Regions from separate parts of the Homo sapiens genome. Here region 1 is linked to region 2. Evidence: fine-mapped QTL for protein levels in blood plasma. A gene starts in region 2. The other region holds a variant in brackets. All regions are shown on one strand. Distances are from middle to middle.

Region 1 (2,500 bases), 63 kb before region 2:
ATATAGGCTTGAATTTATATAAAGTCCATCGGGGTGGCTGCTGTGGACACACTGGGTGCTGTGGAACGTGCTTTGGGTGGTTTTCTTGTTTGAATTGATGACTTATCACTTTATTAACCAAAGGTGTGGGACTGGGGAGAGCTGCACTTTGAAGGATTACGACTTCTTTTTTAAAACTAGGAATATGAGTCTGGGCGCGGTGGCTCCTGCTTGTAATCCCAGCACTTTGGGAGGCAGAAGCAGGTGGATTGCTTGAGCTCAGGAGTTCAAGACCAGCCTGGCCAACAGGGTGAAACCCCGTCTCTACTAAAAATACAAAAAAAAAAAAAAAAAACCCTAGGAATATGAGAATATTTTCTAAAACTATGTTTGTACTATGGTAAAACATATGTATTATAACATAAGATTGACCATTTAAAAACTTTAAAATGTATAGTTCAGTGCATTAAGCTCATTCACAATGTTGTGCAACCAGCACCACCAGCCAACTCCAGAACTTTTTTGAAACAACATATGATTGTATCTTTAATAAAATGTTGCCAGCAAATAACAACTTTTTACCCCCAAAAGTACATAAGGAATTTTACACAATATATAACAGTTATCCCTAACGTACTGCATATTCCTATTATTCCTACGTAAACAGTAAATGTAAGTAAGATACTCAGCCTGCTGAATTCCAAAATAACATGAGAAGCAGAAGCTTTGTCTTATTTGGTTTCAAGAGCCTGGGCAGGAAAATGGACACCAGCCTTCTAGGAAAGGCCCCAGGAACCTGGTCTCTGGGAGAAGCCCGGTCACACTGGATGGGTGGGGGTAGGGTCTAGCTTGACATCTGCTTCCCTGCCTCCTTCCTCGCTGACCTCGCCCGCCCGCCTCCGCCTCCGCCTCTGTGGCCCTCATGCAAGCTCACCTGGTCACTTTCGATGATGGCACGTGCCCACTCGTGGGCTTTGTACAGCTCATGCCGGCGGTCTGGTTTCTCC[T/C]GGAACCGAGGCTCCTTTTTGGCAGGGTCGTCATCCCCAAAACAGGGAGACTGTGTTTTGGGGACAAGTTTTACGTCATCAACAAAGATGAAAGGCTTGAATATGGACCTGGAGAGGAAGGAGAGGCACTTCAGCCAGGCAGAGGCTGGGACCCGGGAACACCCAGAGACTGTCCTTTTATTCAGCAAACATTTCCCAAGCCAACTTATGGTGGGTGGTGGGTGTGGGTGACGGGTGGGTGGGTGAGTGCCAAGAGAGACATAACTGCATGTTTTAGTCGCTATTTTAGCAAAACTGCAGCCATTTACAAGCTGCAAATTCCTCTACTTACAGCAAAGAGACATCAAAACAGACTTCCTTTGTTCTGAACCATTTGAGAGGACTCTTTTAGCAATAAAAAGTGAGGCAAACAAACAGTGTTCTGAGAAACGGTGCAAGGAGCCATCTAGCTGAGCGAGAGAGGTTTGCCTTTTTTTTTTTTAATACCGTGGTCTGAGAAGCAGCCTTTGGGAAAGGAAGGGCCTTTTGGTTTGGGTTTGTTTTTAGTTTTTTTCTGAGGTTCTACCTTACTGAAAAATCTATGGAATATCTCTGACAGACCCAAGGAGGGGACAGAGTAAGAAAGATGACAGAAGAGGCCTTGGAGGGTGCACACCACACAGAAGTCTGGTTGTGTGAGAGAGCTAGCACAGGGCACAGCAGGTAGCTAATGCCCCCCAGCTCTCTTCAATTCAGTTCTCTCGGCAGGATGGATGTTATCTTCGGGAAAATGGCTGTGCGTATGCCTGCATGTGTGTGTACTTGTACAAGTCTAGGATACATCACCCCCCCACCCACCCACCCACACACACACACACACACAAGAGCCACGCATATAAACAGCTGTGGCCTGGGATCCCAGGCCAACGGGCTAAGGGACCACTATGGCCAACTGTAACGCCGGGGAGAGAGCCTTATCCTACCCTCCCCACATCCAGAGGAAACACTGCTGGATCAGAGGGCTGCTCCTGGCAGGCATGGGCACCTCTGCGTCCCAAGGATTGCCTGTTTTCAGCTGTACCATGGGGCAGCACCTGCAATAACAGCAGGAGAGAAGGAACTCCCCATATGTGCCCCATATGTATAGGTCAGATTTGTCAGATTTGGACATTTTTTTCTCCTCTCAACAGGTGCACTGTGGCCCACCTCGGGTACCTCAAGTGGGCTAGAGGTGAGCTAGGATGTTGATTCCCTCAGCCCTGGGGCATCTGGAGCTTGAGGAAGCCAGGGCAGCCTTGCCAGTATGGCACACAGGTATGAATATTTTCAGGTATGGGCAAGGTATGGTGGCTCACACCTGTAATCCCAGCATTTTGGGAGGCTGGGGCAGGTGGATCACTTGAGGTCAGGAGTTCGAGCCCAGCCTGGCCAACATGGTAAAACCCCGTTTCTACTAAAAATAAAAAAAAATTAGCCGGATGTGGTGGAGTGCTCCTGTAATCCCAGCTACTCAGGAGGTTGAGGTGGAAGAGTCG
Region 2 (2,978 bases):
CAGAAAATCCAGAAAAGCCACGTTATTTAACAGAACCCTACAAGGTCAGCTTTGAGTCAAAGCAGGTAACAGTTTCCTTCGATGTTTTCATGGACATTTTTATTCCCAAATCCGAGTTCTCGCCAATTCTCTAAAGTTCAAGCGCCCCTCCTGCTTTGCAGACCACATTTCTCTCGGCCCTCGCGAGTGAGGTCGCCAAATACTCGACGCCTCAAGAGCGAGCCGAGGAGGCAGAGGCCGACCAAGCCGGCCTCTCGGCAGCCCCGCCCGGCGCCCCGCGGAGAACGCCCGGGTGCGGCTCGAGGGAAGTTGTGTCAAGTCCCACGCGCGGCCCGCGGAGAACCCAGGGGCGGCCCGCGCGCGTCGGCCTAGCGGGGAGGGCTGCTCCGGGACACGGTGCGGCGGCCGCGGGCGAGTTGGACGCGCTGGCAGAGCCGGGCCGAAGGCGGCGGGCGTCTCCGGGCAGCCATGTTCGCGGCGCCCGCCCGCGCAGCAGGTACGGCACCTCGGGGAAGGTGCCCGGCTCGCCCCAGACCCCAGGGTGGCGAGGCCAGGGGCCCACAGGCACATCCCAGTGGGCAGCAGGTTGGCTGCCAGGAAAAGGAAACCCAGGAAGAGCAGCGCGGGGAACCCGGCTGCGGTGCGGGAGCCCGGGGCCGGCATCCCTCCACTGCACCCCCGCAGTCCCCGAGCCGAGTCACCCCGGCTTCAGGCCGAGGCCACCTCTCCTCTGACCGCCCCCAGGCTCCCAGCCCGCCCGGGCCAGCACCGGGAATCGGCCTGGGGTAACGCTACCCGCGGGTTCGGAGGGACAGCGGGAGGAGATGAAACGCAGGAGGTGGCGATGGCGGGTGGGGTGAAACCGCCGGGAAAGCAGCGCTGCAAACGCCCTGCGCTCCCAGACGCGGCTCACCTGGGGCGGCGGGCTCCGGGCTCCGCTCTCCGCTCTGCGGTGCTGAGGCTGCGGCCGCCGAGGGTGCGGGTGCTGCCGGGTCCGGATTACTGCGGCGACCTCGGGGGCTGCAGCTGCAGTGGCGGAGGCGGCCGCCGGGCGCTTCCCCCTACCCAGACTCCCGGCGCTGGGGCCCGCCGCCCCCCGCAGCAGCTGGCCCGACTCACGTGACCGCGGGCCCACCCTCCGCCTCCCCCACCCCGGCCCCCGGGGCCCCGCCGCACCCCGCGCGTCTGGCTGCACGGGCCGCGGCGCTGCTCACCGTCGAGTAGGGAGGGGGCCTGGGAGCTGGAGGAGCGGCCGAGAGGGCGTATCTCGCCGCAGAAAGTGGCCCCCTCTTTGCTAGATTTTTATTTCTTGGTTGTGGCTCTCAAAAGGGAAAACCCGGGCTTCAAGGAGCCAGGCCCAGCATCCTTTTGGCGCCTCTTCCCGACGTTTGGTTGCTACGTCCGGGCCTCGGCGCCCACACAAGATTTCCCCGGAGAGAAATGTGTCCTGTACCTTGTTGACTCGCACGTCCAAGTCGAGTCCCTGGTTTTAAAAGTGCCGTCCTGTACCATGTTGGTAAGCCAGACCCTGTCCCAGGTACTTGGACATTGTGGCCTAGAGAGGTTAAGTAACTTGCCCAAGGTCACACAGCACGTAACTAAGCCAAGATTCCATATCTGGGTTAATAAAGTTATGTACAGGGACTTGTGTGTTGTGTGTCTGTGTGTGTGTGTGTGTGTGTGTGTTGATGCCAGCGTCAACTCCATCTTTTATAAGTAAATAAGAAAAGACTATCTCAAAAGATATGAAGACGTAATTCAGAGGAAAATAAATGCAATTCTATCCTGGCACACGAAAAGATATTCAGGCTCACTTAACTGCAAATCAAATATGTGGGGTAGCATCTTCCACCAGCCAGATTAACAAAAATCAAAACATTTTGAGTCTTGCTTTGTCGCCCAGTCTGGAATGCAGTGGCAGGATCTCGGCTCACTGCAAACTCCGCCTCCTGCCTCCCGCCTCCCGCCTCCCGCCTCCCGGGTTCAAGCGATTCTCGTGCCTCAGCCTCCCAAGTGGCTGAGACTACAGACCCACGCCACCAGCCTCGCTAATTTTTTTTGATTTTTAGTAGAGATGGGGTTTCACCATGTTGCCCAGGCCGGTCTCAAACTCCTGAGCTTAGGCAATCCGCCTGCCTCTACTATCCAGCTTCCTTTAAAAAGGAGAATGATCTTTATTTGCTAATACAAAACTATTTCCAACCTATACTAACTAAAGAAAAATAAAAAGCTAGGTGCAGAACGTTGTGTGTGTTATTTGTGGGAAGAAAATATATATGTATGTCTGTACTTATTTTTGTAAATGCACAGAGTATCTTTGGAAGAGTACGTAAGAACCTGTAATAGATGCCACCAGGGAGCAGAACTGGGAGACTGGGTGCTGGGGAGAGAAGGAGACTTTTTTCCATGCCCTTTGAATGTTGAGCCTGTGCTTACAGTCTGACACATGAGTAAACGGATAGTGGGGAAGGGCTGAGGAAGTTGGTGTAGGTACTGCAGAATAGAGCATTGGTTCGTAGACTCTTGGAGCACAAAGGTACTTTACTGTTCTTTTAGTCTAGCCAAGAAAACTGTAGCCAATGAGTCTAAATAATCAATATTAGAAATTTCTAGCGGGCTTATTCCTGGGTTCCAGCCCAGATCTATGGAATTCAGAGTCTCTGGGGCTGGAGCCAGGGAACCCGCATTTTTCAAGCTCTTTAGTTGTTTCTCTTGCATGTTAAAGTCTGAAAGTCCGTGAGGTGTGGGTAGGGAGAGCATTAGGAAAAATAGGTAATGCATGCTGGGCTTAATACCTAAGTGATGGGTTGATAGGTGCAGCAAACCACCGTGGTACACGTTTACTTATATAACAAATCTGCACATCCTGCATATATACCCCAGAACTTAAAATAAATATTAAACTTTTTTTAAAAGTCTCAGAGTCGCTGTTTTATTTTTTGTTTGTTTTGAGATGGGATCTCGCTCTGTCACCCAGC

Alleles and levels. Positions count from the first base shown, and alleles are read on the strand shown. Strength reflects both the effect of a copy and how common the allele is.
In carriers of allele T in region 1, the plasma level of the protein whose gene starts at base 1,073 in region 2 tends to be lower than with C alone (moderate association).

The links. A credible set is the group of variants that fine-mapping cannot tell apart. PIP is the chance, under the fine-mapping model, that this variant and not a neighbour inherited with it causes the effect. The UK Biobank Pharma Proteomics Project read protein levels with antibody pairs (Olink). The fine-mapping took linkage between variants from a reference panel, not from the people measured, so its PIPs are less certain.
Region 1: its variant is the best candidate, but not a certain one, in a credible set for the plasma level of the SCRN1 protein (UK Biobank, PIP 0.85). The variant lies in the coding sequence of SCRN1. If it changes the protein, the assay may bind it differently, which can mimic a change of level.

Annotation. Positions count from the first base shown.
Region 1 is chr7:29,925,539-29,928,038 of GRCh38, forward strand. It overlaps SCRN1 (secernin 1), which reads right to left. Exons shown (of 8, transcript NM_014766.5): 7 at 914-1,094. Among named protein-coding and RNA genes, the nearest start is that of FKBP14-AS1, 62 kb to the right of the region's middle. The variant T/C (reference allele first, on the strand shown) is at 987.
Region 2 is chr7:29,988,729-29,991,706 of GRCh38, forward strand. It overlaps SCRN1 (secernin 1), which reads right to left and starts at 1,073. Exons shown (of 8, transcript NM_014766.5): 1 at 914-1,073. It overlaps FKBP14-AS1 (FKBP14 antisense RNA 1), which reads left to right. Exons shown (of 3, transcript NR_187577.1): 1 at 1-65. RefSeq lists silencers at 300-419, 510-779, 790-839, 860-1,199.